4 linked regions of the Homo sapiens genome follow. The protein of the gene in region 1 interacts with the protein of each later gene in a biochemical or structural test. Each region holds a gene or a part of one and is shown on either strand. Other genes may lie near its edges.

What was found.
Region 2: the proteins of KRT8 (region 1) and RCHY1 form a complex in vitro, tested with the Homo sapiens proteins (one study listed by BioGRID).
Region 3: the proteins of KRT8 (region 1) and PPL form a complex in vitro, tested with the Homo sapiens proteins (one study listed by BioGRID).
Region 4: the proteins of KRT8 (region 1) and TCHP form a complex in vitro, tested with the Homo sapiens proteins (one study listed by BioGRID).

The regions. Positions count from the first base shown.
Region 1 is NC_000012.12:52,893,976-52,901,181, reverse strand, and holds the end of KRT8 (keratin, type II cytoskeletal 8), read left to right. Parts: coding exon 1-23; intron 24-498; coding exon 499-594; intron 595-1,116; coding exon 1,117-1,407; intron 1,408-2,197; exon of another isoform or gene 2,198-2,282; coding exon 2,283-2,503; intron 2,504-2,662; coding exon 2,663-2,721; intron 2,722-3,563; coding exon 3,564-3,754; 3' UTR 3,755-3,991; downstream 3,992-7,206. UniProt on the Homo sapiens protein: Together with KRT19, helps to link the contractile apparatus to dystrophin at the costameres of striated muscle.
Region 2 is NC_000004.12:75,502,032-75,510,044, reverse strand, and holds part of RCHY1 (RING finger and CHY zinc finger domain-containing protein 1), read left to right. Parts: intron 1-748; coding exon 749-868; intron 869-1,109; coding exon 1,110-1,225; intron 1,226-8,013. UniProt on the Homo sapiens protein: E3 ubiquitin-protein ligase that mediates ubiquitination of target proteins, including p53/TP53, TP73, HDAC1 and CDKN1B. Mediates ubiquitination and degradation of p53/TP53; preferentially acts on tetrameric p53/TP53.
Region 3 is NC_000016.10:4,924,941-4,932,953, forward strand, and holds part of PPL (periplakin), read right to left. Parts: intron 989-8,013; exon of another isoform or gene 736-988; intron 1-735. UniProt on the Homo sapiens protein: Component of the cornified envelope of keratinocytes. May link the cornified envelope to desmosomes and intermediate filaments. May act as a localization signal in PKB/AKT-mediated signaling.
Region 4 is NC_000012.12:109,906,774-109,912,353, forward strand, and holds part of TCHP (trichoplein keratin filament-binding protein), read left to right. Parts: intron 1-752; coding exon 753-926; intron 927-1,812; coding exon 1,813-1,925; intron 1,926-2,097; coding exon 2,098-2,164; intron 2,165-4,289; coding exon 4,290-4,462; intron 4,463-5,580. UniProt on the Homo sapiens protein: Tumor suppressor which has the ability to inhibit cell growth and be pro-apoptotic during cell stress. Inhibits cell growth in bladder and prostate cancer cells by a down-regulation of HSPB1 by inhibiting its phosphorylation.

The sequences.
Region 1 (7,206 bases):
ACGAATTTGTCCTCATCAAGAAGGTGAGGGAGTCTCCCTTCTCCTATCTGGACACTGGAGGCTGGGGCTCAGAGACTCAGACCAAGAAGCTTTCTGGGTTTTGTCCCTAAATATTCCTAAGTAGTGGGACAAACTCATTTATGTAAACATTTGGGTGCACAGAAAGGTAGACAAGGATGGAGTGGTAGGTGCATTTGGACAGAACTCTTGACATCGGTGTTGGGACATGGTTCAGAAAACAGAGCAGTAGAACTGGAGATCTGGCTCTAGAAGGCTCCCTAGAGAAGGAGGTGGAAGAGGGTGTGTTGCAGGAAGCAGAGGTGAAGGTGTGTGGGCTGAGAATGCACATGTGATGGGCAGAGGCTGGGCTGGAAGATCAATCCACAAAGTGGGCAACTAGAAAGTCCTGTGACCAGGCCATTGGGTGGACCTTGGGAGCCCCTTGGTTGGGGTTGGGTGTGGAAACCCAGCTCAGGCTCCCCTCTCCTCATCCCCCAGGATGTGGATGAAGCTTACATGAACAAGGTAGAGCTGGAGTCTCGCCTGGAAGGGCTGACCGACGAGATCAACTTCCTCAGGCAGCTATATGAAGAGGTATGTTCCTGGTCGCAGGAGAGTGAGGGTCCCCCAGCCTTGTCAGCGCCTCCACCCTGAGACTCAACCAGAGGCTCCTCCCAGCCCCCAGCACACTAATAAGACAAAGGCCCACTGCTGACTAATTACAGCCACCAATATTTGCTCGGCTAGTATTTATTGGGTCTATATGTTCTGTCCCTCGCATGAGGGATGAGTCATTACCCCATTTCACAGACGAGAAAGTGGGCTCAGAGAAGTGAAATAACGTATCCAAGGTCATCATAGGGTGTGGTGATTCAGCAGCAACTCTGTCCCCAAAGCCCTTGTTCCTAATCTTTGAGCTGCATTGGATCCCTCTGTGCACCTAGTATTGGTGCACCCAGTTCCTTTTTCAGGAACTTTGCCCTCTCCCTGACCCTGACTCCCACCTGCTCCTCTCCTCTGCTGCCCCTGTCTTATACCCTAAGAAAGGCTGTTGTGGAAAAGGGGGCTCCCTGTGTGCAGAGACAGGGCCTCACCACTTGCCCTCTTCCCCCACAGGAGATCCGGGAGCTGCAGTCCCAGATCTCGGACACATCTGTGGTGCTGTCCATGGACAACAGCCGCTCCCTGGACATGGACAGCATCATTGCTGAGGTCAAGGCACAGTACGAGGATATTGCCAACCGCAGCCGGGCTGAGGCTGAGAGCATGTACCAGATCAAGTATGAGGAGCTGCAGAGCCTGGCTGGGAAGCACGGGGATGACCTGCGGCGCACAAAGACTGAGATCTCTGAGATGAACCGGAACATCAGCCGGCTCCAGGCTGAGATTGAGGGCCTCAAAGGCCAGGTATGGGCCGGGTTGGGGGTGGGAGGGGTTCCTTGGACACATCCTGGTGAGAGGAGATAATGTAGGAAGAGTGAAGTTTCTGGGAGTCGGGGAAGGAATCCTAGACCAGGGTTCAGGAGTTGGAGGGGCAGCCACAGTTCAGCTTCTCAGTCTGCTTCTGAGAAGCAAAGGGATGCAGGGAAGGTCCCTTGGGCCAGGACAGAGGTGAAAGGGGACTGGGGCAGGTATGTTGGGGCTCGTGATACATGCTCCCAAGCCTGCTTTAATCAGTCATATGCATCAGGGTAAGGTTGAGCTCTGCTGCTTTAAGGAAAGTCTAGAACCCAGGGATCTAGTCCAGTTAGGGTAGGGGGACCTTACAGTGTCGCAGGTGAGAAGGGTGTGGAGGGGAAGCACCTGGAAACTGCTCATGTCTCCCTGATCTGCTTCCTTAGTCTCGTTTATTTATTTATTTATTTTTGAGACAGAGTCTTGCTCTGTCGCCCAGGCTGGAGTGCAGTGGCGTGATCTCGGCTCACTGCAAGCTCCGCCTCCTGGGTTCACACTATTCTCCTGACTCAGCCTCCTGAGTAGCTGGGACTACAGGCGCCCGCCACCAGGCTGGCTAATTTTTTTTGTATTTTTACTAGAGACGGGGTTTCACTGTGTTAGCCAGGATGGCCTCGATCTCCTGACCTTGTGATCTGCCCGCCTCGGCCTCCCAAAGTGCTGGGATTACAGGCATGAGCCACTGTGCCCGGCCCTTAGTCTCATTTAATTTGAGCTGGGGGGAGTCAGCCTAGGTGGTGGTGGGGAGGACCCTGAGGGAGGGTGGGAGCACGGGAGAAGAGAAGGCATACCCAACCTGACCTACTTACCTGTCCCCTACCCCACAGAGGGCTTCCCTGGAGGCCGCCATTGCAGATGCCGAGCAGCGTGGAGAGCTGGCCATTAAGGATGCCAACGCCAAGTTGTCCGAGCTGGAGGCCGCCCTGCAGCGGGCCAAGCAGGACATGGCGCGGCAGCTGCGTGAGTACCAGGAGCTGATGAACGTCAAGCTGGCCCTGGACATCGAGATCGCCACCTACAGGAAGCTGCTGGAGGGCGAGGAGAGCCGGTGGGTGTGGGTACCTCTGACCGGACCTGCTTCCCTATCCCTGGGACCTGGGGTGGGGACGGTGGGAGCCCCCTGAAGCCCCTTGGGACTTGGGGTCCTGTTGTTCTGGGCCAAGAAGGGCTAGGAGTTGGTCCTGACACCCCATTTGTCTGGGTACAGGCTGGAGTCTGGGATGCAGAACATGAGTATTCATACGAAGACCACCAGCGGCTATGCAGGTGGGTGTCCCAGGGCCCTGGGATGAGGGCGGGAGGCAGGGCCCAGGGAGGCCTCAGCTCCAGGGAGGGGGCTGTGCTCAGTCGCTCACAGTGACCTCAGCCTGAGCACTCATGTTCTTGGGAGAATCCTAGGGTGGGGAGGCACATATTCAGGACCCCAGTAATAACTTTATTACTTAGTAACTTTACTATTAGAAAGCACCCAAATAAACCATAGCTGTGTGCCAGGCACTGTGCTAAGTATCCTACAGGTTTTATGTGATTTATTTTATTTATTAATTTAATTTAATTTTTTTGAGACGAAGTCTCGCTCTGTCACCCAAGCTGGAGTGCAGTGGCGTGATCTCAGCTCACTGTAACCTCCACCTCCTGGGTTCAAGAGATTCTCCTGCCTCAGGCCTCCCAAGTAGCTGGGACTACAGGCGCATACCACCATGCCCAGCTAATTTTTGTATTTTTAGTAGAGACGGGGTTTCACTGTGTTGGGCAGGCTGGTCTCGAACTCCTGACCTTGTGATCAGTGCTGGGATTACAGGCATGAGACACTGGGCCTGGCTGTAATTTATTTTTTATATGACACCTGTAAACGTCTTCAGTTGAGGAAGCTGAGGTGCAGCTAAATGTCCAAGGTCACACAGCTATATATATGGCAGCTGTTTTCCACCCTGCTCCTGGTTTTCCCTGACAGTTCTGGAGTAGTGAACCATGCAATCACTGATCAGGCAGAGCTGGGTTAACCTCCCATCCCTGGGGCTATGTTGGGAATGAGCAGGGAGAAGGGGCATGGAGCCTGCCATGGGGTGGGCTTCTGTACTCATGTGGCTACCTCTGTCCCTCACCAGGTGGTCTGAGCTCGGCCTATGGGGGCCTCACAAGCCCCGGCCTCAGCTACAGCCTGGGCTCCAGCTTTGGCTCTGGCGCGGGCTCCAGCTCCTTCAGCCGCACCAGCTCCTCCAGGGCCGTGGTTGTGAAGAAGATCGAGACACGTGATGGGAAGCTGGTGTCTGAGTCCTCTGACGTCCTGCCCAAGTGAACAGCTGCGGCAGCCCCTCCCAGCCTACCCCTCCTGCGCTGCCCCAGAGCCTGGGAAGGAGGCCGCTATGCAGGGTAGCACTGGGAACAGGAGACCCACCTGAGGCTCAGCCCTAGCCCTCAGCCCACCTGGGGAGTTTACTACCTGGGGACCCCCCTTGCCCATGCCTCCAGCTACAAAACAATTCAATTGCTTTTTTTTTTTGGTCCAAAATAAAACCTCAGCTAGCTCTGCCAATGTCCTTGCTTGTGTGTGCATCTGATGTCCACTGGGGTGGGAGGGAGGTGGTCAGGAGGCCTCTTCTTGGGACTGAGAAGCTGGGAGGGGTCCAGGAAGCAGGGGGTGCACAGCGGGAAAGTCTGACCCCCTCAGCTGTTCCTAAAGAGGCTCCTTTATTGAAACCTGGTTGAAACCTTGCTTGTTGCCATAGATATCTACACCTGTATAATAGTCATTGACCTGTGCACAGTGCTTTCTGGTTTACAGTGTGCTTTCAAATCCCAAGGTTCATGTGATCTGTGCAGCAAGGCTCAAGAGGCAGGCAGAGCAAGTTTTTGAGGGCATTATCAGCAGAGAGCTTAGTGTGCTTCCCCTACACCTTGGCATCAGGACTATCTGCATATAAGGAAAGCCAGGCTCAGAGAAGCCAAGTAGTTGGCTCATCTAGAAACTAGCAGATTTGGCATTGGAACCCAGAGCTGTCCAGCTCTCAGGCTTGTACTCCTCCTTGGCCAGGCACATGGCCTTTCCTTGTGGCCAGACATGTCTTTTTATCACCTTCAATCTTTGCAGTCAGGGACTAAGGCATCCTGGCTTTTCCATCCCCTCAGAGGTTCAGAGTCTATTCTCAGCCATTGGGTGTGTCATACCCACAATTTCTAGAAGCTAGAAATTGTGGGACTTGGCCCTTCCCCACTCCACTCAGTCACAGCCACCACCCCCTTCCTATCCTTTTTACAAGCTGTGTGTATGATATAAAGGGCGTGTGTGCATTCTGTGTTTGCATGTGGAGGGTGTACTGTGTGTGCATGGGTGTGCACAGTGTGTGAAGGGGTCTGCCTGACTCTTGAGACAACCTCCAAGGTTCAGGGCAGGAGGGGTTAGGACACAGCTGGGTGGGGCAGTGCATCCCCACAGTCCTGCTCCACTGCCACAAGCACAGAGTTCCAGGCAGCCACCCTGTCCATTCAGCATTGGGCTAAGTGCACAAGCCCTTAGCACGACTGAGATGGGGGCATTTCCAGACTTTCTGAAACACCAATGGAGATTAGACAGAGACAGGCAGAGGGTACTGTGAGTGGGGACAGGCTGGTGCAGGAAGCTCCTGTCAGGCTCTGCTGTGCGGTCTCTCTCCAGGGCTCCTGTCTCTGGGTCCTCAGCTTCCCAGCCCCTGGGCTCCCCTCTGAGGGCCCCATCTCTGCACCTCCCTAACTACCACACAGTGCCTCCCTAGCTACCCACATCGATGGAGCTGGGCTTCCAGACTGAGCCCAGGAACCCCCCACTGCCAACCCCTCCCACTCAGCCCCAGGGCCAGGCCCAGGGATTTGCACACTGTCACCTTAGAGGATCTCACTCTTTGGTAGTACTCATTAACAGCACCATTATCCAGAGCAGGGGATCTATTTTGGCAGTGGTCCACAGTAAGAAATTCATTTTATCACCACCTGCAAATATGTATATATACATATATATAACTGAAACAAAAATTTCATGAAACAATACCAACCTTCTGCCTTCTGCTCACATGTAGCCTGGCCCTCAGCAAGAATCAGGTGGGTGGTGTAAGAGCCCAGCGCAGTCACAGCACCCAGTGAGAAGGATCTCTTACCATGGGTGCCCTAAGTCAATATTTTCAATTGTGCCCCTCCCAATCCTCCCTGAAGCCAGTCACCTGTCTTATCTGGCCCTGTTCCCAGAAGCAGGCATGCTGGGGGCAGCCGGGGGCCCCACCAGATAGTCTCCTGGGAGTTTCCACGCCCTGGGTGTTTGCTCAGGGAAAGGCAGGATGGCTCCAGGGAGAATTCCCTTTCCCTCCCTCCCTGCTTGCTCCTTCCAGGTTCTGGTGCATCTACCATGGGATCAAGGTCACCCAGCATTAAGGGGACACCATCCCTCCCATTTATCTTTCAGAAACTACACAGACAGAAGAGCTGGAAATCCAATGGTCATTTAGATGAGGAAACTTAGGAAGGACAGGAGCTGACATTTCTTAAATATCCATTTCACCTGCTTGTGTGTCATCTCATTTCAAGTCTCCAACGATCCTGTGAGGCAGGACTTAAAACCCCATTCATGGAGGTAGAATCAGTCTAAGCTTATGTAAGTGGTGTCCTGACTCTTGACAATACTAGATTTTTTTTTCTTTTTTCTTTTTCTTTCTTTCTTTCTTTCTTTCTTTCTTTCTTTCTTTCTTTCTTTCTTTCTTTCTTTCTTTCTTTCTTTCTTTCCTTTCTTTTTTTCTTTTCTTTTCTTTTCTTTTTTTTTTTTTGAGACAGAGTCTTGCTCTGTCACCCAGGCTGGAGTGCAGTGGTGCAGTCTCGGCTCACTGCAACCTCTGCCTCCCGGGTTCAAGCGATTCTCCTGCCTCAGCCTCCTGAGGAGCTGGGACTACAGGCACCCGTCACCACGCCCGGCTAATTTTTTGTATTTTTAGTAGAGACGGGGTTTCACTGTGTTAGCCCGGATGGTCTCCATCTCCTGACCTCCCAAAGTGCTGGAATTACAGGCGTGAGCCACTAAGCCTAGCTTTTTTTTTTTTTTTGAGTGATGGAGTTTCTCTCTTCTTACCCAGGCTGTAGTGCAGTAGCGCGATCTCGGCTCACTGCAACCTCCACCTCCCAGGTTCAAGAGTTTCTCCTCCCTCAGACTCCGAAGTAGCTGGGATTACAGGTGCCCACCACCACGTCCAGCTAATTTTTTGTATTTTTAGTAGAGACAGGGTTTCGCCATGTTGGGTAGGCTGGTCTCGAACTCCTGACCTCAGATGATCCGCCCACCTCGGCCTCCCAAAATGTTGGGATTACAGGCGTGAACCACTGTGCCCAGCCTTTTTTTAGAGACAGAGTCTCATTCTGTCACCCAGGATGGAGTGCAGTGACACAATCTCGGCTCACTACAACTTTTGCCTCTTGGGTTCAAATGATTCTCCTGCCTCAGCCTCCCAAGTAGCTGGGATTACAGGTGCCCACCACCACGCCCAGCTAATTTTTGTATTTTTAGTAGGGACGAGTTTTCACCATGTTGGCCAGGCTGGTCTTGAACTCCTGGCCTCAAGGAATCCGCCCATGTCGACCTCCCAAAGTGCTGGGATTACAGGCATGAGCCACTGTGCCTGGCCAGTAATACTAGATTTTTAACGCATATAAATGAAAACATTTTTTTTTTTTTGAGACAGAGTTTTGCTCTGTCATTCAGGTTGGAGTGCAATGGCTTGATCTCAGCTCACTGCA
Region 2 (8,013 bases), on another chromosome or scaffold:
AAAATAAGAATATAATCTTTATTATTTTTAATGTAAATGAATTTATCTGGAAATGTCTAAGAAGAGGTTGCCTGTTTGCTGTTTAGGCTCAGAATGAAATTGGGGTGTTATATTAGTCTGTTTTCACACTGCTGATAAAGACATACCCAAGACTGGGAAGAAAAAGAGGTTTAATTGGACTTACAGTTCCACATGGCTAGGGAGGCCTGAGAATCATGGCGGGAGACAAAAGGCACTTCTTACATGGTGGTGGCAATAGAAAATGAGGAAGAAGCAAAAGTGGAAACTCCTGATAAACCCATCAGATCTCATGAGATTTTATTCATTATCACGAGAATGGCACGGGAGAGTCTGGCCCCCATGATTCAGTTACCTCCTTCTAAGTCCCTCCCACAACACGTGGGAATTCTGGGAGATACATTTCAAGTTGAGATTTGGGTGGGAACACAGCCAAAGCATATCAGGTGTTGTGGGATTAGTGTTTCAATCTAGGGATTTCCTTCATAATTCTTTTGTTTTAAAGTTGTGTTCAACTTCATACAGACGTAGTGATGTTGAAGGGAAGAATTAACATAAAATATGCCAAGAAACTAGTGAAATGTTATGTTTAGGATCAGTTTAGCAACTGATCTATTGGTTGTAATCTTTCAGTTCCATCCAGGAGGAGGAGGAAGAAATTTTCTTTTTGTATTGCACACTTAGTTTCTTTTGCTTCTTACTATATCTCTTTTTTCTCCGTGGGTGTTAGGCACCTTGCTGTGACAAGCTTTATACTTGCCGCTTGTGTCATGATAACAATGAAGATCATCAACTAGATCGCTTTAAAGTGAAGGAAGTGCAGTGCATAAACTGTGAAAAAATTCAACATGTAAGATTTTATGACATTTCTATTTTCTTTTTAAAAGCTGTATTAAGGTGGTTTGAAAAAATTTAATCAAAAGTATCATAAATAAGATTTCTTTAACTTCTAGAATAAGCAATATCTTTGGTTTAGGTGTTTCAAAACTTATAAAAATAAACTGCATATAGTTGAACATAAGTTCTAGATATTCAAATGGTAACTCAAAATGTTTAGTTTATTGCAGTTTTTAATTATGTTTCTTTTTTAGGCCCAACAGACTTGTGAAGAATGTAGCACATTGTTTGGAGAATATTATTGCGATATATGCCATTTGTTTGACAAAGATAAGAAGCAGTATCACTGTGAAAACTGTGGAATTTGTAGGTACTGTATGTAAAGTGTTCTTATCTAATTGCTTCTAATGTATATGCAATAATAGTTTTTAAAATCAACTTTATTAAGGTGTAATTTACATCTGATAAGATACATTCATTTTAAGTGTCCAATTAAGTGAGTTTTGATAAATACCGGTATCTCTTTTACTATCAGCACAATCAAGCTATAGAACATATCCATTCTAAAAAGTTTATTCATAATTTGTTAATAATTTAATTTACCCATCAATTATTGTATAACTATTTAGAATTTTACCTTTGGATTATAAAATATGTTTTATATAAAGTGTTTTATGGGCAACTGAGGTAGAGAATTGGGATAAATTTTTCCTTTGTAAAAATTAGTATTTAAAAAATTATCAAGAAATACAGGTGATTTTATAAAAATTGGAAAAAACAGAAAAGTAGAAATAATAAAAATAAAATAACCAGAGCCTAACCACAGACAAGCTACTGTTGACATGTCGGTGTATAAGGAATTATTTTCTTTCTTAAAAATCTCGAGTATTTTAGATGTATATTAAAGCATGTATGTAAAGTGTGTCTAAAGTACAGTACAGTGAATAAGCCACCGAGTTTAGGAAAGGAATGTTACCAATACTGTCAAAGCCCAAGGTGTTCCGTGTTCAGTCCTTTCTTCTTGTCCCTGCTGGAGGTAATCACTGTCTTGAATATTTTAAATCACTTTCTTGCTTTTTTTTTGTTTTTTTTGTTTTTTTAAAATATAGTTTGTTTTTAAGGAAGGATAACCAACCTACCAAAAGATAACAGAAATTATAAGCAAATGATTTTATGAATTTTAACAAATGAACATGCCTTTGTAACCACTACCCAGATCAAGAAACACAACATTCATAGCACCTTCATAGCTTCCTGTGTGCCCCCTCCAAATTAATACACTTCCCCAAAGGTAACCAGTATGCTGACTTTTGGAAGTTTTTAATGAATGGAATCATATAGTATATGCTCTTTTGTGTTTTGTTTTGTATGTTTTAAGGCCATGTCTTTCAGCGGTCACATACTTAAAATTATTACATTTTCCTGTATGATTGACCCATTTATTATTATATAATGTGTCTTTTTATCTTTAGTAATGTTTCCTGCCCTAGGCTCTACTGTATCTATATCAGCTTTCTTTCGATGAGTTTTTGCATGTATATCCTTTTCCATTTAGACATTTTTGTATACTTACATTTAAGTCATGTGTCTTGTAAAACAGCATATAGTTGAATTTTAATTTTTCAATCCAGTTTGATAAAACTGTCTTTTAATTGGAGTATATAGTTCGTTTTTTATTAAGGTAGTTAGGATATGTTCGTGTTTCAATCTACAGTTTTGGTAGTTTCTATTGCCTTAGTATTTGTCTTTTTTCCTCTCCTTTCTTGTCTTCTTTGGATTAATCTGTTGCTTTCCTATTTGCTTTTATTCTCTATAGGCTTGTTAGTTATACATTTTTCAATTATTTTCTTAGTGGTTATCCTAGAAATTATAACATACATCATTGGCTTACTAGAATAATATGTTTATCACTTCTTGGACAATATTAGGACCTTAAACACTAAGAGTCTTTATATGCTATTGTTGTTATATATTTACCGTTTCTATTGCCCTTCTTTCCTGTAGGTCTCCAGCATTATCTTTGGAGTTACTTTTCTTCTGCTTAAAGAATTGTCTTTAGTGTTTCTTTTAGTGAGGTCCTGCTGATGATACATTCTCTCAGTTTTTTTTGTCTCTGAAAAATGTCTTTTTTTTGCCTCCATTTTTGAATATTTTTGCTGGGTGTAGAATTCTAAGTTTACAGGTATTGGTTCCCCTGACCTCCCAACACTTTAAAGATATTCTGATTCCATGGTTTCTGTTTAAAAATATCATTTCTCAGGATTATTATTGCTTCTTTGAAGTTAAAATGTCTTTTATCCTCCTCTCGCTGTTTTTTAAGTCATTGGTTGTTAGTATTTTTTCCGTGTGTCCAGGTTTGATTGAGTGTAATATTTATCTGGCTTGGGGTTTGTAGCATTTGTTGAATCTGTGGCTTGATGTCTTCTGTCAATTTTGAAATATTTTTGGCCAGTTTCTCTTCAGATAATGTTTCTGTACCGTTTTCCCACCTCTTCTGAGACTCCATCCCATAGATCTTTTTACTACATCCCATGTCTCTTTTTTTTTTTCCTGTATTTCTCCTACTTTGATTTTCTTTATGCTTAAATTGGATACTTTCCACAGATTAACTTCCAGGTCTCTCTTCTGCTGCATTGAATCTGCTTTTAAGCCTACCAAGTTATCTATTTATTTAAGTTATAAAATTTATATTTTATCTTCATTCTTGTTATTTTCTAGTTGTCAGGTGAAATTCTTTACCTTTTTTTTCTTTGAATGTATTGATCACAGATGATTTAAAGGACTGTGCCTAATAACTCCAATATCTTGATTATCTATGGGTAAATTTTGTTTTCTGTTTTTTCTCCCTTGGTGTTTGGTTCTGCCTTTTGACATGCTTGATTTTTTTTTTTAGTTGATTGTTGGACATAATATGTAAAAATTTATTAAGCTCTCGATGCTATTTTTTTTTCAGAGAGAATTTAATTTTCTTTCAGAAGGCAGTTAATGTAGGGATGGATAACCTTAATCCAATTTAGCATTGATATGATTAGAGACTAATTTTTGTTTTTTTTTTTTTTGTATGTCCTGTTCTATTTTTTTTTTTTCCTCCCTTTATTCTTATGCTCCTAGGACATAGTCCCTTGGAGATCTTGACTTAAAGCTAGGGTTGTTTACCAGGCCCATCTCTTTCGTGGTGGAATCTGGACTCCAAATTTTGGCCCCCTAGCATAGGAGTACTTTCAGAGGGTTTACTTAGTTTCTTAGGCTCTTACCTGTTGCTCTCTGTTTAGTTTCTTAGCTTGTCACAGCACAGTTTAGGGTCTAAAAATCTCCCAAGGAAGAAAGAAGTAGAGACTATTGACTTTGCCTCAGTATATTTGCTTTCTCTCTGAGATCTTTGCCCTTCAAGCACTCAGTTGCTCTTTACTACTTTTAAACAGCTTGTTTGTTTTCTTTAAATTGAGTTTTTCTAGTTCTCAGTAGGAGTTTTAGTCCTATAGAAGCTATTTCGTCATTGTGGAAGTAGAAGTTACAATATATGTTTCATTTTGCTTATTTTAAAAATCATATATATGGCCTTTTTTTCTTTTTGTTTTTTTACTGAGCTCTGTTTCTAAGATTCATCCTATTTGATTAACTCTAATTCATTTTCACTTTTGTAGTGTTATTTTGTATATCATATCTACACATAGCTTCTAATTACCACACACAACCAAGAAAATCATACCCTCTTTTATTGGTTGATTTATTGACATTCAAGTTATTGTTACTGCAAAGTACACATCTCATGCTACATGGTAAATATTAAACTTCATGAGATCATGGTATTTTCATATTTTAAATTTCTATACCTGGGAGTGCCTTATATCAGGGTCCCCAGTGCTTGGGGTGCGGATTCTGGTGCATGGCCTGTTAGGAACTGAGCTGCGCCCAGTGCAGGGTGAGTGGTGGGTGATCGACCATTACTGTCTGAGCTCTGCCTCCTGTCACATCAGTAGTAGCATTAGATTCTCATAGGAGCACAAACCCTATTGTGAACTGTGCATTCAAGGGATCTAGGTTGTGTACTCCTTATGAGAATCTAATACCTGATTATCTGAGGTGGAACAGTTTCATCCCGAAACCATCCCCCAACCTCGGTCCATGGAAAAATTGTCTTCCATGAAACCAGTCCCTGGTGCCAGAAAGGTTGGTGACCGCTGCCGTATATACAGTAGGTGCACAGTAATGTGTAGGCAGTATATCTTTGGCAGTGTTTTCAGTATTATGATAACCCTGAATATACTAGAAAAATTAGTCATCGCCATTTACCATTTAAGTATAATGGATTCTTTTTACTTTAAAAAATATTTTAAAGCCCTTTTGTGAATAATGTGCAGACGAAAGAATAAAGGATAGTGAAAATTAACTTCACTGGAAATTTTACTAAGAATTTGAACACTGCAAACCCAAATTTTAATTCCATGTATTCCAAGTTGAAGATAATGTGTGCTCAAATATGTCAGTGTCCTCTGTAACTGCTTTTGACCCTTGAACAATGTTGGGGGTTAAGGGCACCAAGTGCCAGCTCAGTTGAAAATCTGAGTATAACTTTCAACTCCCCACAACTTAACTACTAATAGCCTGCTACTGACTGGAAGTCTTATCAATAACACAAATAGCCAATTAATACATATTTTGTATGTTATATGTATTATATACTATATTCTTAGGATAAACTAGAGAAAAATATTAGGACAATCATAAGGAGAAAATATGTTAACTGTTCATTAAGTGGAAATGGATCATCATAAAGGTCTTCATCCTTCTTCATGTTGAGTAGGCTGAAAAGAGGGAGGAAGAAGAGAGATTGGCTTTGCTATCTCAGGGGTGGCAGAGGTAGAAGAAAATCTGCTTATAAGTAGACCTGTGTACTTCAAATTTGTGTTGTTCAAGGGGTCAACTGTATTTACTTGTCAGTTGTCATGCTTGAATCTGGCACATGTGCATCGTGTAAATAACTGATACTAGATTTTAGATACATTTCTAATAGGTTCTAGCTTGTAATTACTTCTGGTTCTTCTTGTATTTGTATCATCAAAATGCAATACTAATTCCAGATCTCAAATACACCACTGATAAGTCTTGGCTTATCATTACTTCTGTACACATATTACCAAATTCAAATACATTTGAGAACTTTGAGAGTCGTAATTTGGTTGAAGAAAAGACGACCTTTCTTCATAATTGCATGCTCTGTAATTGCAAAACATTTTAATGAATTTTTTTCATTTTTACATCATCTGTTTCCTTTTAAGTACTTTAACATATGTACCTGCCTTCAACGTTTGTCCACTTATGAACCATATTAAGTAAATTTTGGTGTACAAACGTCATAAAAGATGGAAGAATATTATCACACATTCTTTAAGGATGTCCAGGTTTTTGTCATGAAATAATGTAATTTGAAGTCCTTCCTAATAAATGACTAAGTGAGGATACCATATTTTCTTTTTTTTTTTAATTAATTTTTTTTTGAGATGGAGTCCCACTCTGTCACCCAGGCTGGAGTGCAGTGGCGTGATCTCGGCTCACTGCAACCTCTGCCTCCTGGGTTCAAGCAATTCTGCCTCAGCCTCCCTAGTAGCTGGGATTACAGGCACTCGCCACCACAGCCAGCTAATTTTTGTATTTTTAGTAGAGATGAGGTTTCACTTTGTTAGCCAGGATGGTCTTGATCTCCTGACCTCGTGATCCGCCCACCTTGGCCTCCCAAAATGCTGGAATTACAGGTGTGAGCCACTGTGCCTGGCCACCATATTTTCTTTTTGTCCTTAGAAATATATTGTTCATTCCTTTTTTTCAGTGAGACCATTCATATGGTACATCATCTGAAAATCATAATCTGATTTATTGCTTATAGGATTGATTTCACCATCATTATAATTAGAGTCCAGAGCACTGGTTCTCAACTGGGGAGAGTTTTTTCCCAGGTGATATCTGGCAATGCCTGGAGACATTTTCAGCTGTTGTAACCAGGGAGTGAGGGGTAGCAGATGCTAATGACATCTACTGGATAGAGACCAGGGATGCTACTAAACATCCTATAATGTGCAAGACGCTTTCCTGCTACAAAGTATTATCTGGTTCAAAATGTAAATATTGCCTAGGTGGAGAACCTTCAGTCTAGAATGGTTATCTGCCTTTTTGCATTTATTTTCTGCTTTGTCTAAATTTTCCTTTTTTTTTTTCTATTTGTGAAAAATGAAAAATTCTGATTTCTCAACTGTGTTCAAGGAAAACTACAAAGAAGGTATCTGCGGACTCTTTAATGCCTTCTGGAAAGATGATGTAATACTTTGAGCAGTACAGAAAGAAAACCGAAGGATTATGCATTAGTGATTATTTCATGTCATTCTTTCATGTTTCTACATGAAAGGTCTTTCTACCATGCTTTGCATTTTAGTCTTTTTGTTAGGATAGTTGGGAATGATTGATAATGTGAAAGGATTCCTAGGATGCTGAAATACCAAAATTAGGAAAAATAAGATTAAGATTCCATAATGTATCAGATTTATGAAAGGGTTCAATGGACCCATATGATAATTGCAAACAGAATAGAATGAGTTTATTCTATTAAAGAAAAAGTAGATTTTCTTCTTTAGAAGATTTCTTTTCTCTTTTTTTTTGAGACGGAGTCTCACTCTGGCGCCCAGGCTGGAGTGCAGTGGCGCGATCTTGGCTCACTGCAAGCTCTGCCTCCTGGGTTCATGCCTTTTTCCTGCCTCAGCCTCCCAAGTAACTGGGACTACAGGCGCCCGCCACTATGCCTGGCTAATTTTTTGTATTTTTAGTAGAGACGGGGTTTCACCGTGTTAGCCAGCATGGTCTCGATCTCCTGACCTCGTGATCCACCTGCCTTGGCCTCCCAAAGTGCTGGGATTACAGGTGTGAGCCACCGCAGCTGGCCTTCTTTGGAAGATTTCTAAAGAAAGAATAAATGTCACAAAATATTCATCTTTAAAACAGAATTGATTAAAAAAAGAACTAGACCTGGGTACAGAGTGAATATTGTATAAAAAGGCTTTTGCAGTCATAAAAGCTTTGTTAAATGCTGAATTTAATCAAAATCCCTTCTCAGAACTTTTTTTTTTTTGAGACAGAGTTTCACTCTTGTTGCCCAGGCTGTTGTACAAT
Region 3 (8,013 bases), on another chromosome or scaffold:
CTGCTGGCTCACAGCCCAGCCTGCACTCTCCTCCCATGTGTGGACACAGGTCCCTGCAGGCTCAGCACTCCCTGCCTGGCCAGGGCCACTGGCCTTTGATCACATCTGCAGTTCCTTCCTCTGGGGGTTAATTCTGTCTCAGTGGGTGTGTATTGGGGTTGCATTGCTGCTGGAATGTCTGGAACGCACAGGAGGGTACACCCCTCCCTGGAACCAGCCTCACCTGTCCCAGAGCCCAGAGAAGGGGCTGGGCCTCCTGCCACCACGGTCATCCTCTTCTGGCGTCCTGCCTGCCTGGAGGGCCAGCTTGGGGGAGGTGCACCTCCGGTGCCGAGTAGCCCTCTGCCCCTACCTTCTTTAAACACTGCCTGGCTCCTGAAACATCTGCCCTGGCTCTGACACAAAGGCAACCACCGTGGACACTCAGGAAATAACTGATGAATAGTAACAACACTGAGGGCACCTACTGGGTGCCCAGCGACCGCTCAGTCCTTTTGTGCATCACCCATTGACGTCTCATAGCCCTAGGAAGTAGCCACCCTTAGTGTTACTGGGGCTCTTAATCCTACCTATTAGGCTATTAAATTTTTGGACAAAAAGAACTTACTCACCTTTTTGGGGGCCCTTCTATAACCTTAATTCCACACCTTGCGTAGGGCTGGGCTCAATAAATAGGTGTTGAACTGAGCAGATGTTTTAATGCAATTCGGTAACTCTTATGTCTCTGTGTTCTAGGTGAAGATAACTGAGGCTCACAGAAGTTAAGAAACTGGTCCGAGTTTACACAGCTGGGAAGTGGTGGTGCCAAGATTCGAACCCATGAAGACGGGCTTCAAAAAGCCACCTTCTCAGTACAAAGGGGACATCAGTATCAATCCACACCCACCCCTTACAGACAAAGGGACAAGAGACATCGGAGAGACAGGATGATGGGACCAGGCATTCACCACCCAGGGAAGCAGAGTGATTTACAGTTTGTTGTCATTTTCATCAGTACAATTAATCCCAGTGGTTGGTTGGGTAAGGATTAGTGATGGTAAACGGAGACTGAGTCATTCTCCTAAGTTGTCCCCACAAGGGACTCCCAGCCTGTCCCTCCAAACAGACCTTTCAGGCGGAAGCAACTGCCATTGAGTGAGCACCTTCCTGGCCCACACCCTACCCTAGCACCGGAAGCAGGTTTCATCTCTGATCCTTATAACAACTAGTTGAGGTACGTGCTATCATAGCTCCATTGCAGATGAGGAAACTGAGCCTCAGGAAGACCACTTGCTCAGGGTCAATAGGTTAGTAAGAGGTCTATGCTTGTAACTGCTGCAGCCCCAACTGGGCACTTTCTAGATATTCAGTAATTGCCAAATAAATTTTCGACCCCACCCCACCAACTCTTTGTCATCTCTCTGCCCCTTACAGGCCCTGGCAACAGGCCCTTCACCATTAACAAGCCCCCAGAGATATGAATTGTCCACATGCTATAAAATACCTGCTCAATTTCACACCTATTTATGGAGCCCCAAGCTTATGTAAGGCCTGGAATTAAGGACAACAGAAGGCCCTCTCCCAAAAGATGAGTAAATCCCAACTATTCAAAAGCTTGTAAGCTAGTAGGTAGGTTAAGGAAAAACACCCCAATGGGTATAATTACAAAGATTTGGCTTGGCGCGGTGACTCATGCCTGTAATCCCAGCACTTTGGGAGGCCGAGGCGGGCAGATCACGAGGTCAGGAGATTGAGACCATCCTGGCTAACATGGTGAAACCCCATCTCTACGATAAATACAAAAACAAAAATAGCCGGGCGTGGTGGCAGGCGTCTGTAGTCCCAGCTACTTGGGAGGCTGAGGCGGGAGAATGGCGTGAACCTGGGAGGCAGAACTTGCAGTGAGCTGAGATTGTGCCACTGCACTCCAGCCTGGGCAACAGAGCAAGACTCTGTCTCAAAAAAAAAAAAAACAAAAAAAAACCAAAAACAAAGATTTTAGATCACTTACACCAGGGTATTTTCATCCACTGTGTTCCATTTAGGCCTTATAATCTAACTTTAATGATGAAAATATACTCAATCCAGTAAAAACCAGGAAAAGAGCAAAATGGAAACAAAGGGAAAGCATGATAAATAGGGCACTATGGTGGAGTAGGTTCAAACACATTAGTCATTACAATAAATGTAAATGAGTTAATTTTGCCTATTAAAAGATAAAAGACTCTCCGGTGAGATTACAAAACACACACCTTCCCCAAGCTATATGCCATTTTATAAGACACACACACTTGAAACTAAATGATACAGGAAGGTTGAGAATAAAGAATGGAGAGTGACATACCAGGCAACTGATACTGAAGAGAGAAAGCACTGTCCATATATCTCAAAGACAAGAGGGAGCGAGGCAATCCATGTAACTATGTGGTTCCCAACAGCTGCACATCAAAAGAATGATGTCTGGACCCATGTCCATGGAGATTTTGACTTAACTGGTCTTGGAAAGGGCTCTGACATGCTGTTCAAAACTCCTCAGGTGATTCTAATGTACAGCCAGGGATGAGAACAAGGAACTGAACCACAGCAAGGTTTAAAAGAAGCAAGATGCCGAAGAATCCTAGATCTCTATAGGAAGGAAGCCCTGTGAGAAAGCAGTACACAGAATGTGCCCAATGAATACCAGATTGATTGGTCAATTGACTGATTCTCTCACTACTAGAAACTCCTGTGCTAATTAGACAGTAAATGTCCTCACACCCAGCTATTAATCCTGTGGAAATATATCCTAAGATGAGAAGGTTGCTGGTGTAGTAATTCCAGGTCTGTTTTTAAGGCCTAATCTGTTTCTGCCCAGGGAAGGCCGCCCTGCCTCCAGGCCTCTGATGGGGCCTAGGGTTCTGTGTCAGGTGAGTGCTTTTGGGCTCCTTTTACAAACATACAGAAGTTCAAGCTGCTTCAGGTAACACCAAGGCAGGTCTTGAAGACAGGGCAACACAGCAAGACCCTATTTCTACCAAAAATAAATAAATAAATAAAATTAGCTGGGCATGGTTGTGCATGCCTCTAGTCCTGGCTGCTCAGGAGGCTGAGGTGGGAGGATTCATAGCTCACTGCAGCTTTGAATTCCTAGACTCGGGGGATAAACAGGGCTCAAGCCAACTTTGGTGCCCCAAGGCATCAGGATGTCACTCTGGGTTCAGGACCACTGGAGAAAGAGCACCAGCCTCCTTTTTCATTTTTTGAGACAGAGTCTTGCTCTGTTATTCAGGCTGAAGTGCATTGCTGCACTTCACTCACTGCAGCCTTCAACTCTTGGGCTCAAACACAAAATATATTTTGTATTTTTAGTAGGGACAGGGTTTCACCATGTTGGCCAGGCTGGTCTCCAACACCTGACCTTAGGCCTCCCAGAGTGTTGGGATTACAGGCATGGGCCACTGTGCCCGGCCATCTCAGCAGTTCTTACCCAGACACTTTGAGAGGGCTGGCAGGGTGTCCTGGCCGCCCCGCCCATCCTTTCCTAGGCAGAGGGTTTTTGTCATGCTTTGTAAGATAAAACACACCAGAGCTGCTGGCTGAGCCTGCAAGGCCGCAGGGCTGTGGGAGAAATAGAACTTGCAGAATTTTTTGCTGCCCCCACTGCCTGGGCTAGGATTTCAGGCTGATACCTTTTAGGGTTTCAAATTCTCTGCCTTCGCCATGGCGATGGTTTGTTTCCCATCGAAGGGTGGGAAAGGATTCCAAGTTTGTACCACAAAGAAGAGACAGGGCTTCAACCCTGCTTCAATCTCAGATAAGAAACTCTATTTGGCTGGGAGCAGTGGCTCATGCCTGTAATCCCAGCACTTTAGGAAGCCGAGGCAGGTGGATCACCTGAGGTCAGGTGTTTGCGACCAGCCTGGCCAACATGGTGAAACCCCGTCTCTACTAAAAATACAAAATATAGCCAGGCGTGGTGGTGGGCGCCTGTAATCCCAGCTACTTGGGAGGCTGAGGCAGGAGAATCACTTGAACCCAGGAGGCAGAGAGGTTGCAGTGAGCTGAGATTGTGTCACTTCACTCCAGCCTGGGCAACAAAAGTGAAACTCTACCTTAAAAAAAAAAAAAAAAAAAAAAAAAAAAAAGATCTGCCGAGAGTCCTGGAGCGAGTCACTCAAACTCTCTGAGCCTCACTTGGAACGAGAGCTGAGGGTAGAATTTATCTCAGACAATGTAATAATCATAATTTAGGGTGATGGTTTTAAGCTAGCACCCAACCTCAAGGCCTTTCTGTGTTCATACCTTTCCCAGTTCTGGTCCCCTCCCCTCTCACTTCCTTGCAGAGACTCTCCATTTTTGTCTCCCCATCCAGAACCTGCCTGCTTGCCTTCCAGGACTGGGCCCCCTTTGCTTCCTGAGGTCCCTCTTCTTCCTCTCCCAGACCTTTTATTTTGCTATGGACTGGACTCTGAGACCCAGGACTCAGGGCTTGCCTGCAGGCTCTTCCCACGCTGTGCCCCCCGCCAGCTGTGCCCCACGCCAGCTCGCCTTCTCTACTCCACCCTTCACCTAAACTGGAAAACTCGTGATCTACTCAGACATGCAGAAAAGTACTGAAAAGAATCAGCCACGCATGTCCCCACCACCACGGTTTGGTTGATGTTTTCACAGTACCATCTTTGCTGCAGATTTTTCTAAAAAGGAAGAGAAATGTTATTGTTCATTATCCTTTCAGGCCCCTTCTTAGGAGTAGCAGAATTTTAGATTTACTGGTTCTTCCTAAGCCTGTTTTATTTTATTTATTTAGAGACAGGGTCTTGCTCTGTTGCCCAGGCTGGAGTGCAGTGGCACAATCACAGCTCACTGCAGCCTTGAATTCCTGGACTCAGGGATCCTCCCCTCTCAGCCTCCTGAGTAGCTAAGACTAGAGGCATGCACCACCATGCCCAGCTAATTTTTTTTTTTTTTTGGTAGAAATAGGGTCTCACTATGTTGCCCAGGCTCGTCTTCAACTCCTGGCCTCAAGTCATCCTCCCGCCTTGGCCTCCCAAAGCGCTAGGACAAGTGCGAACCACTGCACCTGGTTCCCTAAGCTTTCCAATACATAGACACATCTGCATTCAGGAAGAGTAAGTGGAATTGCTCTGTGTATGTTTCTAAAAATGTATATATGCAAGCATCATCTTTGCATCCTTCATCAACTTGCTTTGCTTGCTCACTGTCATGCCTTTTCGGGTCGTGGATACACACATCCCCGTCACCTTCTGTCAACTGCACTCTCTTTATCCTCTCATCTCCAACTGATCCCCGGGTTCGGCGTGGAGGACCTCTCCTGAAGAAGCCTGTGTGGCTGGGTCAGGGCCCTCCTTTATCTCACTATCACTCCGCATTGCTGCCAGCTGTGTACTCAGCCAACTCTCTGCTCACCGTCCTGCACGCAGGAGGTGACTGGATGGGGACAGGGCAGGGGGCAGCCTGCTCAGGCCTCGCACTCCTTTCCACTAGCTGGAACCCCTGCCCCATTCATCCCCACCTCCGGGCTCTGCTGGTCCTGGGGTGTGAAGCGCAGGGCAATGTATGCTCTCTTGAAATGCTGAGGGAAGGGGAGAATCTTAGCAGTCCCCCATGGCTTACTCTCATTCATTCATTCATTCAGCACGCGTGTAGCACCAGTGTCTGGGGGAAGGCAGCCACACAGCCACATGTGGCTACCCCGGAGTCACATAGCTGCTGAGATAAGAGCTACCAAGGAGAAGGGGAGTCCATAGAATAGGTGGATCTACCCCAGCAGAGAGGTTGGGGAAGGCTTCCCTGAGGAACAGAAGGTAAACCTGGAAGTGGAAGAGAAGCAGTGAAAAGGGGTGGGAGGGGCATTCTGGGCAACAGGAATGGCAGAGGGAAAGGCCTTGTGGCCGGGCACAGCGTGGAAACAAGACGGTGACAGGCACATGTTGATGTGCAGGGCACCAGCTCCCAGGGCCTAAGAGCAAAGAGAGGTCTGGGGCAGGGGTTAAGCAGCTGGAGGTATGGTCAGATTTATGTCGTAAGGAGCTCCCTGGCTGCCATGGGGAGAAGGGACTGGAGCGCTGGAGTGGAAGAAGGAACAGTGAAGAGGGACTGGAGGCCTGCTGGGCTGCTGGCTCTGCAGGCAGGGAGAAGTGGGGATCCATTTAAAGGGAAAGGGCCTGCGTGCAGTGGCTCATGGCTGTAATCTCAGTGCTTTGGGAGGCTAAGGCAAGAGGCTCACTTGAGCCCAGGAGTTCAGGACCAGAGTGGGCAATATAGTGAGACCCCATCTCTACAAATATTAAAAATTAGCGGGGCACGGTGGTGTGCACACCTGTAGTCCCAGCTTCTTGGGAGGCTGAGGCATGAGGATTGCTTGAGCCCAGCAGTTCAAGGCTACAGTGAGCTATGATCGCACCACTGCACTCCAATCTGGGTGATACAGTGACAGCCTGTCTCTAAAGAATAAAGAAAGAACACTTAAAAAAAATAGGTTGGGGTAGGGAAGGGCAGGGCTGGGACCTGAAGAGAGCTTTGTCCCACCCGGAGGCAGAAAGGGGCACCAGGTGGCCTCCCGGGCTCCAGAGGCTGCAGCACAGCAACCCATCAGAAGCCGGGAGAACAAAGACCAGAGGCCGTTTCCCCATTCGCTCCCAAGACAGGCCGGGGCAGGCAGGCTGGGAGGATGCAAGGTGGTGCCGGTAACACCGGCACAGACCTGCCGGGAGCAGAGAGCAGCTGCACGCTGGGAAGCCAGGGTTCTCTTCCCCAGACGAGGAGCTTTGGAAGCTCTCTAAAGCAGCTTCTCCCCCAGGTCCCCTACTTCCAGGGCCTCCCCCAACCACACCCTTAGGGTATTGCTTAAAGGGTGTGGACGGAGCTGAGTCTCTCCCCCAAAATACCCTTTCCCAACATGATCCGCCCGACAGTGCCTGAAATGCTACCATTAGCAGCTGTTCCTCCAGGTAAGCTCAGCTCTGTCCTGAATCGAATTTATCCAGTCTCATTCCTTCTTCCAAGAGAACTGGGCAAGGGATGGAGGGGCAAAGCTAGAGAGAAGAGAGGTAGAGGGGGTTGCTGGGGGTAGAGGCAGTGAGCACAAACACCAATGACTCTACCATTTGGCCTGGAGCAGTCCCCAGGCACAGTTGCTGCCAGATCCAGGTACGAGTGGGGAGGCCTCATTTGCTTCCCCAGGCCCCCCTGGACTTCCAGCATCAGCCATTTGTGAGCTGTGAGCTCAAGGTGAATGTGAGCCCTCTGTGAAACAGGACACTTCCACCTGCATGGCAGGCCCGCTGTCAGAATGAGATGTAACATCCATGGCCTTGCTGGGCTCACAGTATGTGCCTGAGAAATGGCGGGGCGGCTCTCTCTAAGCTGTTACCCACATGGGTCCCCTCCCATATCGATCAGGCGTTCCTACCAACACTGATCGATGGGTGCATGTGCGTGTCTGCTTGAGTCAGCTCCCTGGTCAGCTCTGGGCTTGGCTCAGTCATGAATCTTTTTTTTTTTTTTTTGAGACGGAGTCTCGCTCTGTCTCCCAGGCTGGAGTGCAGTGGTGTGATCTCGGCTCACTGCAATCTCTGCCTCCCAGGTTCAAGTGATTCTCCTGCCTCAGCCTCCCCAGTATCTGGCTGGGATTACAGGTTTCCGCCACCACACCCAGCTAATTTTTAATATTTATTTTTGTAGAGATGGGATTTCACCATGTTGGCCAGGCTGGTCTTGAACTCCTGACCTCAAGTGATCCGTCCGCCTTACCCTCTCAGAGTGCTGGGATTACAGGCGTGAGCTACCGCGCCCAGCCCGTCATGACTCTTAATAGCAGTGTGTGCTTCCTAGTATTGGCTGCTATGATTTGCCGGGCACTCGCTCTGAACCAGGTCATGGGCTGGACCCATCATGTGCATCCCCTCATTTGATCTACCCAGCAGCCTCACCAACTGGGGGTTGCTGTTGTCACCCCACCTCATAGATGAAGAAACTGAGGCTCGGAGACATTAAGTGACTTGCCCAAGATCAAACAGCTTAAGAGACCCAGAG
Region 4 (5,580 bases), about 57 Mb from region 1:
GACACATGTGAAAACTGAATGTTTGCTCTTACATATACCAGAATCCTATGTGATAATTCCCAGGGCAGAATAAGGCCAGGTGACCAGGGCTGGGAGGTGGCACATACAGCACGCGTCTTCTTTTTTTCTTTTGGAGGCAGGGTCTTGCTCTGTCACCCAGGCTGGTGTGCAGTGGCGCGACTCACAGCTCACTGCAGCCTCGACTGGCTGGGCTCAAGCAGTCCTCCTAACTCAGCCTCCCGAGTAGCTAGGACCACAGGTACGCACCACTGCGCCCAGCTAATTTTTTAATTTTTGTAGAGATGGGGTCTTGCTCTGTTGCTCAGGCTGGTCTGGCCTCCTGGCCTTAAACGATTCTCCCACCTCGGCCTCCCAAAGTGCTGGGATTACAGGCGTGGGCCACAGGGTCCAGCTAGGACGTGTGTCTTTAAGGGCATTTTTGTCTCTCTTTTGATGAAATCTGCATCGTAAACTCGCAGCCCTGGCTTACTGTAACCCCTTTGGGGTTAAGCTTCCACACCTCTGTGCACTGGTCGCTTTGCTGCCTGGTTCATTTTAGAAAGTGTTTTGTTGAGTGGGGAGGAAACCCAACATTATTGAGTCCCTCCCTGACTTGGCGTCTGAGGGCGTTGTCATTTGGGATTCAGGCAGGAACTGCCTGGGCCCTGTGGCCTGCAGAACGGCGGCAGGAAGCTAGGTTTTTGTTGGCTTACGGTACAGATATTGACCTGTGTTCATTTGGTCCCTTGTAGCAAGAAGCCACCGCAGAGCAAGAGAACAAACGGTATGAAAATGAATATGAAAGGGCCCGAAGGGAGGCGCTAGAAAGGATGAAAGCTGAAGAGGAGAGGAGGCAGCTGGAGGACAAGCTCCAGGCCGAGGCACTGCTGCAACAGATGGAGGAGCTGAAGCTGAAGGAGGTGGAGGTGGGCACAAGCCCCTCTCAGCCGTGACCTCCTCCACAGCTGCTCGTTAGCATGAGATGGGCACTTGAGAGGCTGCCCTAAGAAGAGGCCATAGCAGGGCTGAGATTCTGCAAAGGGCGGCAGCAGCCGGGTTCTCCCTCTCACATGCATCCCCATCTGCCTTGTGCTTTCCCATCCTCCTCGTTTGCGTGCCTGAATTCCAGAACATTAACGACATGGAGCCAGTAGCTGTTCTCTTAGAGGTGGTTAGCGGCCTGCTGTTGGAGAACCTTCTTAGAATCTGGATTTTCCAGTGCACTGAGTAGACACAATTTAATCGGGTGGTCTAGCACCCAGCTCTCCGTGGGGAGCAGGTTTCGGGTCTCGAGGCATAACTGAGGGTTTTTGGTCCAGGGGCTGTTTTTGGAGAACATGGCACAGTTTCCTTGAAAGAGATCTTTCTATTTAGAAGAGGGAGGCCCATGCTCCTGTGACCTCACTTCCCCTTGCCCAGGCCGTGATTTAGCAACTACATTCTTAGTGCCTACTGCTTATTCTAGGTGCTGAGCACTGGGTTGGGAACTAGAGATAGAGCCTGACCAAGGCCCACAGTCCTGACCTCCTGGTGGGGGCTGTGTCAGGTGGAGGACAGTTGTTAAGTTACAGTAAGAGTGGACCAGTACAGGATCCTGTGGGAGTTTAGAGTTCAGGGCTCAGAAAGGCCCTTGCAGGAAATGGCTCAGAGGGGATTGGATGAGTAAGTGAGTGGTGGGAGGGGATCGTGACCACCTGCATGGCCAGGCCTCTGTTGGTGTAGTGTCTGCGAAAAATGGAGATGGAGAATGAAGGAAGATCTGATTCCCACGATCTCAGATCTCAGTCGAGCTTACTCTCATCATCACCACAGGCGACCAAACTAAAGAAGGAGCAGGAGAATCTGTTGAAGCAGCGGTGGGAGCTAGAGAGGCTGGAGGAAGAGCGAAAGCAGATGGAAGCCTTCCGGCAGAAGGCAGAGCTGGGGTGTGTGTCAGAAGGGCCCCCCACTCTTCCCAGGCGGGTGGGCCTCTTGCTTTTTCAGACTTGCATTCGTGTTGCTGAAACCATAAAGGAGACAGCCTGGTCAGCAGTTATCTAACTTCTATTTAATTCTTTCTGAGATACTGAAGGCAGCCCACATTTGATTCTCCTTCAGGCGTTTCTTGAGACATCAGTATAACGCTCAACTCAGCAGACGCACACAGCAGATCCAAGAGGAGCTGGTAAGTCTGAAGAGACAGCCTGACATCTTTCTTAGCCTCTTTTGTAAAAAAGGCCTTCCATTGCTTAGTATATGAGTGCATTCTCGTAAGAATGAAGACAGTGAGGGGTTGGGGGAAAGGGGAGATGTTGGTCAAAGGATACATCCCTCGGTTGGGAGATCTGGGAGTAGTGTCCATCATGTTGATCACAGCTGATGATACCATATTGTATTCTTGAAATTTGCTAAGAGAGCCAATCTTAAGTGTTGTCACCATGAAAACCAACTGTGAGGTGATGGATATGTTAATTAGCTTGACCGTAAGGATCCTTTCCCAGTGTCTGTGTGTATACATAGATGGATAGATACAGGTATCAAAACATCAAATTATTTTTCAGTAACTGTGTTACTTAAAAAGCAGCACAACACAAAGTGAGATCACCCCCTTGACCAGCACCTGCAATCTCTGTCTATCCCCAGAGGTGCCTGTTTAGTTCACATCTTTCTAGATGTATTTACATACAGAGAGGTGGAGGTTTTTGTTTTTGTATTTAAATCTAATTGAGGTTGCATTCCTCAGCATCTTCAATTAACACTAAATCTCTTAATTTTTAAAAAGATCGGCCAGGTGCGGTGGCTCCCGCCTATAATCCCAGCACTTTGAGAGGCCAAGGCAGGCGGATCACCTGAGGTCAGGAGTTTGAGGCCAGCCTGAATGACATGGTGAAACCCCATCTCTACTAAAAATACAAAAACTAGCCGGACATGGCCGGGCGTGGCGGCTCACACCTGTAATCCCAGCACTTTGGGAGGCTGAGGCGGGCGGATCACCTGTGGTCAGGAGTTTGAGACCAGCCTGGCCAATGTGGTATAACCCTGTCTCTACTAAAAAATACAAAAATTAGCCGGGTGTGGTGGCAGGCGCCTTAATCCCAGCTACTTGGGAGGCAGAGACAGAAGAATCATTTGAACCTGGTAGGTGGAGGTTGCAATAAGCTGAGATCAAGCCGTTGCACTCAAGCCTGGGGGACAAGAGCGAGACTTCTCTCAAAACAAGAACAACAACAACAAAAACTAGCCAGGCATGGTGGTGCACACCTGTAATCCCAGATACTCGGGGGGCTGAGACAGGAGAATTGCTTGAACCCAGGAGGTGGAGGTTGCAGTGAGCCGAGATTGCACCACTGCACTCAAGCCTGGGCAACAGAGTGAGACTCTGTCTCAAAAAAACAAAAAAAGGTCATTATGCTTAGATTGAACCTGTTCTTTTCAGATAGCTCCTTTGTATTCCTAAGTACTTTGATGAGCTCCCTTGAAGTGAGGGAGACAGACCTAAGCTGCCCTTCCCATCCCTGCCCACTGCGGTCAGGGCAGGACATGGGGCACAGTGGCATGGTTGGTCCTGGTGTGCAGCTGTTTTTTATGGGGTCTTGCTCTGTTGTCCAGGCTGGATTGCAATGGCGCAATCACGGCTCACTGCAGCCTCAACCTGCCAGGCTCAAGCCATCCTCCCACCTCAGCCTCTCGAGTAGCTGGGACCATAGGTGTACATCACAATGCTTTGTAGAGATGGGGTCTTGCTACATTGCCCAGGCTGGTCTTGAACTCCTAGGCCCAAGTGATCCTCCCACCTCAGCCTCCCAAAGTGCTGGGATTGCATGCATTAGCCCCAGTGCCCAGCCTCCTGCATTATTTTAATGCTTCCATTATGTTGATGTACATAGTAGCTAATTCCCCACCAAGGAGCATTTTGGTTGTTTCTGGTTTTTCCCTCTTACCTAAAAGCTGCAACGAGTGTTTTGCACTTTTGTGTCACTGTGGTCTTTGTTCTTATAAGTGGGATTTTTGCCAAGTTGTATTCCAAAAAGTTGTGCAACCAGGTGTATCCGAGGGCATGTGGTGGTGGCTGGGTCTCCCTTTAGCCAGAGAGAAGCTCCTAGGCCTGTGCAGTGTCTGAACCACCCCTCGTGATTATCCCCAGTCTGTTCCAGAAATAATCCAGGATCTTCCCATCTCTGTCTTGAGAACACTGTGTAGAATCACGAATGTCTATGTAGAAAGGAAAGGGAGGGCAGGCCCCTCTGTAGGCTCTCATTGCAGAAGGACTCTGTCCAGCCCAGCCACGTGCCGCCCTCTGCTTCCTCTAGGAGGCAGACAGGCGGATCCTGCAGGCCCTCCTCGAGAAGGAGGACGAGAGCCAGCGCCTCCACCTGGCCAGGCGGGAGCAGGTCATGGCCGATGTGGCCTGGATGAAGCAGGCCATTGAGGAGCAGCTGCAGCTGGAGCGGGCGCGGGAGGCAGAGCTGCAGATGCTGCTGAGGTGAGTGGCAGCTGCTGACTGGGCTGGATGCTCCTGGCCTCAACTCTGATACCTTGAAATGCCCCATGGGTCACCTGTTACTGAAATATCTATTGGCTGGGCGTGGAGGCTCACACCTGTAATCCTAGCACTTTGAGAGGCCGAGGCAGGTGGATCGCTTGAGCCTAGGAATTTGAGATCAGCCTGGGCAACATGGCAAAACTCCAGGCTCTACCAAAAATACACAAATTGGCCAGGCGTGGTTGTTCATACCTGTAGTTCCAACTACTCGGGAGGCTAAGTGGGAGGATCACTTGAGCCCAGGAGGTTGGGGCTCCGATTAGCCATGACTACACCACTGCACTCCAGCCTGGGTGACAGAACGAGACTCTGTCTCAAAAAAAAAAAAAAAAAAAAAAGAAGAAGAAGAGATAGCTGTGTATGTTGTCCATCATTCCTGAGGAGCACATCTTCATAATGGACCTGGCCTCTGGGGGTGTTTCCCTTGTATTATCTGAGGTGGAAATCATTAAGGTTTAGAGTAACGATGTGTTCATCTGAAATCTTAGAGGTTTAGAAGGAAATTATTTTTTTTTTTTTGAGATAGAGTCTTGCTCTGTCACCCAGGCTGGAGTGCAGTGGCATGATCTCGGCTGACTGCAATCTCTGCCTCCTGGGTTCAAGTAATTCTCTGCCTCAGCCTCCCGAGTAGCTGGGATTACAGGCGCCCGCCACCACACCCGGCTACTTTTTGTATTTTTAGTAGAGATGGGGTTTCACCATCTTGGCCAGGCTGGTCTTGAACTCCTGACCTTGTGATCCGCCAGCGTTGGCCTCCCAAAGTGCTGGGATTACAGGCGTGAGCCACTATGCCCAGCCAGAAGGAAGTTATTATAGAGATGTTGAATGCTGCTTACATCTATAAAACTGAGTTTGGGTCCTAAAGACTAAACTAGTAGATTGAAATCATCAAATAATAAGTAGCATACATTGAGCACTTACTGCATGCTGGACACTGTGCCGGGTGCTTTACAGGCCTCATCTTACTGAGTCCTGACATCCAGCCAAGTGGTGGCTTGTGAGACCCGGAGACTTGAAGAGGTCACTCCGTCCAGGGTGAGCTATCAGTGACACAGGCA